2 linked regions of the Homo sapiens genome follow. The gene in region 2 interacts genetically with the main gene of each other region. Each region holds a gene or a part of one and is shown on either strand. Other genes may lie near its edges.

What was found.
Region 1: changes in TRIO (region 2) and ELOF1 together harm fitness more than expected from each alone (negative genetic interaction), as found in Homo sapiens cells (one large-scale study listed by BioGRID).

The regions. Positions count from the first base shown.
Region 1 is NC_000019.10:11,552,357-11,556,545, forward strand, and holds the end of ELOF1 (transcription elongation factor 1 homolog), read right to left. Parts: intron 3,220-4,189; exon of another isoform or gene 2,989-3,219; intron 2,898-2,988; exon of another isoform or gene 2,818-2,897; intron 2,010-2,817; 5' UTR 1,992-2,009; coding exon 1,876-1,991; intron 1,726-1,875; coding exon 1,655-1,725; intron 1,455-1,654; coding exon 1,390-1,454; 3' UTR 690-1,389; downstream 1-689. UniProt on the Homo sapiens protein: Factor involved in transcription-coupled nucleotide excision repair (TC-NER), a mechanism that rapidly removes RNA polymerase II-blocking lesions from the transcribed strand of active genes.
Region 2 is NC_000005.10:14,142,111-14,146,141, reverse strand, and holds the start of TRIO (triple functional domain protein), read right to left. Parts: upstream 2,801-4,031; 5' UTR 2,417-2,800; coding exon 2,260-2,416; exon of another isoform or gene 1,613-2,259; intron 1,337-1,612; exon of another isoform or gene 1,161-1,336; coding exon of another isoform or gene 1,121-1,160; intron 1-1,120. UniProt on the Homo sapiens protein: Guanine nucleotide exchange factor (GEF) for RHOA and RAC1 GTPases. Involved in coordinating actin remodeling, which is necessary for cell migration and growth. Plays a key role in the regulation of neurite outgrowth and lamellipodia formation.

The sequences.
Region 1 (4,189 bases), on a different chromosome or scaffold from region 2:
GGACATCAGCCCTCAGGTGCTCCCCATCGGCCACACACATCCCGCCCCAACACCAGCCTTCTGAGAGTCCTCACCACCCTTGAATAAAGGCCCCTTTCATGTTTCCCTCCCGTGTCCCTCTTCCACTCACTACCTCCAGAACGGCCTGTAAGCTGTTCCCTCAGCCTGGACTCTGGGCTCACAAGAAGTCAGACTGTAAGCTGTGGAGCCTCGTTTCCTGGGTTCAAATCCCCCCTGTGCCACTTTCTGGCTGTAGGGTCTTGGGCCAGTGACCTCCTTCACCTCTAGCCTCTGTTTCCTCATCTTTGAACTTGGGGTTAGCTTGGCACCTGCCCCACAAAGTGGCTGTCAGGACACTGGGGCGACGCAGGAAGGCCAGAGGTCAGCGTCTGGCTAGAGGTGGCCCTACGGTGTCACTGTCTCAGCCTGCCCCTCCCAGAAGCCTCCTCTGACCACCTGTTCTGTCTCACCTCCCCCATTTCCTATTGTGACTGCTGTAAACACCTGGCCAGATGTCTGCCTGCTCCACCACCCTGAATGCTTACTGACTGAATAAAACGCTGGGTGGTTTGAAGGGCTGGTCACATGGGCCACCAGGCCACCTCCCGAACGTCAGAGCCTCAGGTCCCCTCTCCTTCTTCTGGTGACCAGGCAGACGCAGAACCCAAGACATCACGGACAGCAAGGGATGTGCGCTGGCTGCTTTATTTAAGGGCTTGTGATTGACAGCTGTCCCCATCCCAGCCCTTGCTTCCTCTACAAAAGCAACTGAACATGAAACGGGCTTCCTGGTTACCATGGGGAGGGGGGCGGCTCCCTGTCAGGGCCCAGCCCAGGGACCTGGGGAACGGCGGCTTTGAATCCCCGGCCACGGGCACTAGAAGGTGGAGAAGGAGAGCGGGAAGTCCAGTTGAGATGGGCACGGTGCTGGTGAGGAGGCTGGAGAGGTCCTGTTCCAGCCTCTAGTGGGCTTCCCTTGTCCAGGATGTCAGGAAACAGTCCCCCAATTCCGCCGGGGGGAGCCAGAGCCCCAAGGCTGGGGGGCCAGGGGCTGCAGGGAACACAGCAAAGGCTTTCGGAGCCAAGTGAGATCAGTTCAGGCCCCTCAGGCCCAGGAACCCGACACCACCGCGTACCTGTGAGCACACACTCACGGCCACCCCAGTGACACGTGCAGCCACACACACCCACACTCACTCACACCCACACCCACACGCACACCCACTACACACACACACACACACACACACACACACACACACACACACACACACACGGCTGTGACAGCCCAGGACCCACACCCTGGACCCCTGGAATGTCTCTGGACCAGAACCGAACAGCTGGATCCACAGTACGCGGGGCTGCTCAGGGGGCGGGTCCTCTGTGTCGCTACTGATTGGCCGCCTCGCAGGCGTCTATCCAATCACTGTACACATCCACGGGTTCTGACAGATCTGGGCCACTTAGGTCAAGGGCGATCATTGGCATTGGAACCCTGCCCTGCATCTTCTCACCCCACAGAAATCACTAGGTGGCACCTGTTCCTCTGGACGGCTTTGGCCCTGCACCAGGGCACACAGTGGGCCAGATGAGCAGGGTCCGGACTCCAGCCCCCTCCCCACCCTCTGGAAAAAGCCCAGGTTTCCAAGGATACACGTTATGGGCGTCTGGAATTCCTCTAGGCACACGGTACAAGAGATGACTCCGGTGTTGCGGGCACGGTCCCTGAAACAGACCAAGAGAAGGGACTGGTGAGCAATGCGTCCTGGGCCTGTGGGTGATGACGCCTTCACCAAGGGAGGCAAGGGGCAGGATGGAGAACAGCGGGGAAGAGGCAGTGGGGAGGCTGGATCCCTTGCCCTGTTCCCCACTCACATTTTCACATCACAGGATTTCTCGTGGTTGCAGAAGGGGCAGGTGAACTGGGTCTCGAGGGTGCCTGTCATCTTCTTCTTGGGAGGCGGCTTTCGTTTTGACTTTCTGCGCCCCATGTCTGCAGGTGGATGAGCCTGTGGGGAGTGGCAGATGTCAGTGGTTTGAGGAAACCACGCAGCGCCCCAGCTCAATGCTCTAGAAAGCAGGCCGGAAAGAGGGTCTGGGACTTGCACCGTGGTCCCGGGGCCTCTGCCCTTGAGGGACGAGGCCCTCAGTCCTGATGCAGGAGGACAATTCCCTGTCCCACTCTGGATGGAAGGGGTGAGACGAGGCTCTAACCCCATCTCTCTCACTTACTGCGTGACCTGGGCAGGTTATTTAAGCTCTTTGTGCCACAGTTTCCTCGTCTATAAAACAGAGACAAGGCCAGGCATGGTGGCTCACACCTGTGATCCCAGCCAGCACTTTGGGAAGCTAAGGTGAGAGGATTACTTGATGCCAGGACCTGGATACCAGCCTGGGCAACATAGTGAGGCCTCATCTCTAAAAAAAAAAAATTAAAAATTAGCCAGGCATGGTGGTGCAGGCCTGTAGTCCCAGCTACTTGGGAGGCTGAGATGGGAGGATCGCTTGAGCCCAGGAGTTTCAGGTTTCAGTGATGATCCAGAGTTATGATCCAGGCACTGCACTCCAGCCTAGGCAACAGGATGAAACCCTGCATAAAAAAAAAAAAAGAAAAAAAAAAGGCCAGGTGTGGTGGCTCACACTTGTAATCCCAGGACTTTGGGAGGCTGAGGCGGGCGGATCACGAGGTCAGGAGTTCGAGACCAGCCTGACCAACACGGTGAAACCCCATCTCTACTAAAAATACAAAAATTAGCTGGCCATAGTGGCAGGCACCCGTAACCCCAGCTACTCAGGAGGCTGAGGCAGGAGACTCACCTGAACCCAAGAGGCGGAGACTGCAGTGAGCCGAGATCGCACCATTGCACTCCAGCCTGGGCAACAGAGCAAGACTCCGTCTCAAAAAAAAAAAAAAAAAAAAAGTCGAAATAAGGTTGCTATCTCAGAGGAGACTTGTGGGGCTGACACCAGGAATGGTAAGTTAAGTACTTAGCACAGAGCTGGCCCATCATCGCTGGCGCCAATACAAGGAAGCCACTGTTCCTGGGGAGGGTGGCACAAGAGACTCCAAGACAAGCCAGCTGTTCAGGGCCGGGTGGAGCCTAAGAGCCTAGGAACTGGTGATTTTATTCTGGCTGCTCCTCTTGGCAAAGGACATGTAAGTACCATCCAGGAGGAGTGACACTCAGGTTATCTGATGGCCTCGATCCAGATGACAGACTGCAGGGCAGAGAAGTGGGGACAGGCACTTCTGAGTAGAGGAACACTGTGTGAAGGCTCAGGGCAGCTGTCCGTCCCCTGGCAGGTGAGGGAGAGAGGAGGGACAGGTGGGAGGGTTCTGGGTGTTTGGATGGATCCTGGGAGCTACAAGGAGTGAAAGGACAAAGTCACCCTGTGCTTTTGAGGAACTGCGGTGTGAGCCATAATCTGGATGAAGACAAAGTCACAGCCAGGACAGGGCTGTTGGGGTAGAGATGGCAGAGGGTGAGAGAGACAGAGGAGACATGGCGGCAGAGTGAGTGAGTGTGACGAGAGAAGGAAAGTCCAGGATGACTCCCAAGGTTGTGGCGGGGACATAGTGGCTAGAGGGACAAGGTGGCATCATTCTCTGATGTCTAACACATAGGAAGGACAGGGTTTTGGAGAAAATGATGGGGTTGGGTGGCAGAGGGATATCTAGGAACAGATGTCCAGGAGGCAGGTGGGTGGGGAAACGGCAGCAGTTACCACTGAGCCCAACTCCCCTGCGAGGCACGGTGCTCAGGGCACTGTGTTTGCCATCCCTGAGCCTCCTATGGCGCCTCCTCCAACACACACACACACGACTGCTGGTTCTAGCATCGTTCCACTGTGACGGGGAGGTCAGCAGCCTGCCAGTGTCTTCCAGAATAAACAGTGGAGTTTCATTCATTATCTGCTGATCACTTCCTATGTAATACCCCCAACTCTTTCTTTTTTTTTTGAGATGGAGTCTTGCTCTGCCGCCCAGGCTGGAGTGCAGTGGCATGATCTCGACCCACTGCAACCTCCACCTCCCGGCTTCAAATGATTCTCCTGCCTCAGCCTCCCGAGTAGCTGGGAGTACAGGCATGCACTACCACGCGTGGCTAATTTTTTGTATTTTTAGTAGAGATGGGGTTTCACCGTGTTAGCCAGGATGGTCTCGATCTCCTGACCTCGTGATCCGCCT
Region 2 (4,031 bases):
CATCGTTGGCCTAGATGCTAGAGCCAAGATCTAGGTCAGGGACTCAGAGCTGCCCAAAGGAGATTTCACTTTTAAAAAGACGTTCCAGGCTATCGCTGGAATGGGATGCTGCATCTGATACCTACTTAAGTTCTGCCCTGGCTCCTGATTCTAAGTGAAACAACTAAAAAGTTAAGTTTGTCATTTTGGAGGGCAGAAGAAAGGAACAAGCCAGTGAGACATTACCTGGTTCTGACCCAAACGGAACATGAACAGGAGCCCTGGCGGCGGGGGCAGCACAGGCCTAAGCAAAGCCAAGAGCAGACGACAACTCCTGGAGAGAGCCACGCCAACAGGCAGCAAATCTTCGGTGTCTTTTAGGGAGGGCTCTTAGCAGCAGCAGAAGTGATTTTTGTACTATGCATAATAGAGATGTAAAAAAGCCTGGTCTCACAAACACCAAAAAATCCATCTCCAACGCAGAAGAGCCTTTCTAACAGAGAGGAGCTGAATTCTGCACAGAATCTATTATTCTGTGACAGGTAGGTAGAGAGAAAGCTAGACTTAGCTTCAGGGCATGAAGGGAATACGTCCCAGTTCTGCTATTAAGAGGTAAGACGGGGCTGCTCTATCTGGCCAGTCGCACCAAAAAAAAAAAGGTGGGGGGGGGTAGCTTTCTTTAGAAGGAGCTCATGTTTTCCTAAACCTTTGCTTTCTGCAGGCACTTCTCAAGGAGAGTGAGCACTGGGGAGTAGATTAACCCCAAGCTAACACTGGACAGTCGGCTGTGTCACTCCCAGCCACAACCAATCTGCTAAAATGAATCAAAAATAACCCCGCCTAGCAAAGATCAAGACAACCAAGAGAAGACAGTACTAAACCAGGTATCTACCAGCACTGCTAACTTCTGCCTCTCACCATCGCCCTCCCGCTGCAATTGCTCCTCGTGACCCGGATTGGGGAACTGATCTCACCGAATCTGGGGAGGTGATTTTCAAAGAGGCCACGGAAAAGCGTGAACCGCCGACCTCCCGCGCGTCCCCCAGCGCAGGGCCGCTCCCCCGGCCTGTCGGTGTCCCCAGCCCGGCCGTCCTCCCCGAGGCCGCCACCAGCACCCCCGCCCGCCTCTCCAGGCCCGGACCTGGCCCGCCCTCCTCCGCTCTCCAACCCGGAGTCTGCATCCTCCCTGCCCCGTGCCCGGCCCGCTAAGGACTGCGCTCTGGGTGCCGGCCCCGAGGCCGCCGCCGCCGCCGCCGCCTCCTCCTCCTCCTGCTGCTGCTCAGCCGACGCGCGAGCAGACCGGACTGGGCGCGGGGACGCGGGACGCGGGGACGCGGGCCCGGCTCGCGCGGGATCTGGGCCGGAGCGGGAGGAGGCGCCGCCGCTGGGGTACCGGGGACGCCCTGTCACGCCCCCTGCGCAGCAAACCCGGTGCCCCTCCCGCGGACCGGTCGCCACCCGCGCCTCTCCCGCGGCCACCCCCTCTGCGCCGGGGTGGACTCGGGGCCACCTGGCACCGCCTCCACCTCCACGCCACCCACACAGTGCCCCGCGAGCCCCAGCCCCGCGCCGCCCCCCCGGGGCCACGTTCCCAGCTGACCCTCCCGGGTCGTCCCCGGAGACAATGGCTCACCGCGCCTCCCGGTCCTCCGAGCTTCAGCTCGGCCACCGTCCCCACTCCCTGGGCAGTGAGTGCCGTGACTGCCCCGTTTCACAGAAGTGTAGACCAAGGCCGGGGAGATGACAGGCTAGAGGGCCAAGCAAAGAAACCCGGCTGCTAATGGGGTCGAGGAGGGTCCAGGTACAAATCAGCCAGAGACAGGCACAGATCAAAGACCAATTTCCCGTCCCGGACCGGCCCCGGCTCAGTCCGCTCGGCCTCCGGGGTAAGAGCCTCCGCCCACGCCATCTCCGCCGCCGCCTCCTCGGTCCTCCAGCGAAAGAGACAAAGAGCCGGCGCCCCAACCCGCGAAGCCGCGGCTGCCGGGAGCGGCAGACCGGGGGATTCTGCCCTAAAACGAGGGGCGGGCGCAGGGAGGGCGAGGTGGTGGCATTCGGGCCAAGCTGCCGCGCGCCCGGCTGCGCGGGCAGCGGGACACGCGGATGTGGGGCGGGCAGCCCCGGCGCATGGAAGCAGTGGTCCCAGGCGAGAGCCTGCGGGCCCCGACGGACGGACGGGCGGGCACCAGCGCGCGGTGGCCGGAGCTCGGCAGCTCCGCGGCGGGTCGGCCGAGCGCTTGGGGCAGCGCCGCTGGGCGGGCCGGCCGCAGTTGCACTCACCGGATCGGAAGAAGGCCGCGATGTCGGCCAGGTCCTTGGCCGCCTCCTCTGCCCCCTCGCCGGCACCGCCCCCGCAGCCCGAGCCAGCCGCGCTGGCCGCCGCGGCGGGGCCGGAGGACGCGGCGGGGGCGGCGGCTCCGCCGCTGCTGCCGCTCATGGCTGCGGCGGCGCCCGCGGCCGCGCCCGCCTCGGGCCCCGCGCCCCTAGCGCCGCGTGCCGCCCGCTCCGCGCCGGGCCTGGCGGCGCCGAGCACCCAGCTGCCCGCGCCCGGCGCGCGGACGCAGAGCCCCGGGGCGGCGGGGGGCGGCGGCGGCGGCTCGGCCCAAGGAGCGCGCCCACATAGACGAGGACTCCGCCCGGTAGCCGCGAGCTGGCCGAGGGGCGGAGGCGCGGAGCCACGGCCTCCCGGGCGCCGGCCGGAGCGCGGGCAGCAGCACGCGCCTCCCGGACGCGCAGTCGCGAGGGCGGGGGCCCGTGGCCGGCGAGACCTCCGGGATCACGGGCGCCGGCGGCTGCCGCGAGCCTCCATCTTGATTTCAATGGGGAAGGAAGGAGGGGGGAGGGGGAAATCACGGCCGAGGGAACCCGGGTGAAAGGAAAAGGGAGAACAGGGAACGGAGAGGAAGGAAAAAAAAGAGGGGCTTCGGTAATTTCCGGCGAACTTCGTCAAGGGCCGAGCCTGGGCTCGGCGGTGGGCGGAGCCTGGGGGAGGGGCGGGGCCGCGTTGGGCGGATGGGCTCCCGCAGGGCTGGCGGGGAGGCTGCAGGAACGTTCGGTTTGGTTCGGTCTGCTTCCCCGGGGCAGCTCCAAGCCTTGGAAGGCGCAGGAAAGCTCTGACCAGCCGGGGCGGACCTTCCCAGGCCCGGCATTGCGCCCCCAACCGGGGCGCTGGCTCCTGCACCGGTGCGCGGTCCCCTGAGCGCCGAGGCGTTTCGTCGTCTAGCCCGCAAGGCGGGGTGACGCGGGCCGGGGCGGGTGCCTCCCTAGTGGGCTCAGCGCTGGCCCTGGCTCGGGGAGGGGGCTTCTTAATAGTTGTTGAGTGAACATAGAGGGCCCGAAAACAGGTTATCTGCTCCAGTCCCGGAGGCCACGGTACTCCTAAGGGTACAAAGCTCTCCTGTAAAATGGGATTCCTCTCGGTGTATCCCCATCTCCCAGGGGACTTTCGGCTGCTGAACCTCGGGTTCACGGTTTCTCAGTCCTTACTCCGCCAGAATGAATGGGGAAGATGACGGGGTCTGGGGAGGCCAAAAGAAATGTTCCTTTGCGGAAGATCCGTGTCAAACCAGCGCTGGACGAATATTCTAGTTCAAAACGCCTATGCCCCGGCTACGAGGAGAGTGAAAGGATCCAGTGCCGGGGGAAACAGGCAGAAGCAAGAGAGATGAAAAACAACTGGGTGATGAAACCACCACACGAGTATACTGGAAATAGACAAATGTAAATGGTGGATGGTGGCCATCAAATCTTCACTGCTGGAGTGGAGGTTACAGCCAGGAAGAGGCTAGAGTGATCCTTGTGGTACAGGGTTAGAGTTGGAGACATCGTTATGGACTCATGTTTGGGGTCTACATCTATATTATATATTCATAATGTATATAATGGGTCTGTACAGAGATTTGTAGATAAAGGGTCGTACACATACTTGTATCTCTTTGCTTTGTCAGCTGAGTGGGCCTAGACACAACACTCTGTAGCAACGAATACACCTAGCGCTCTGATCTTGCTTCTAGTACCATTCTCCAATAAAAGGAGCCAGAGCTCCTTGAGGA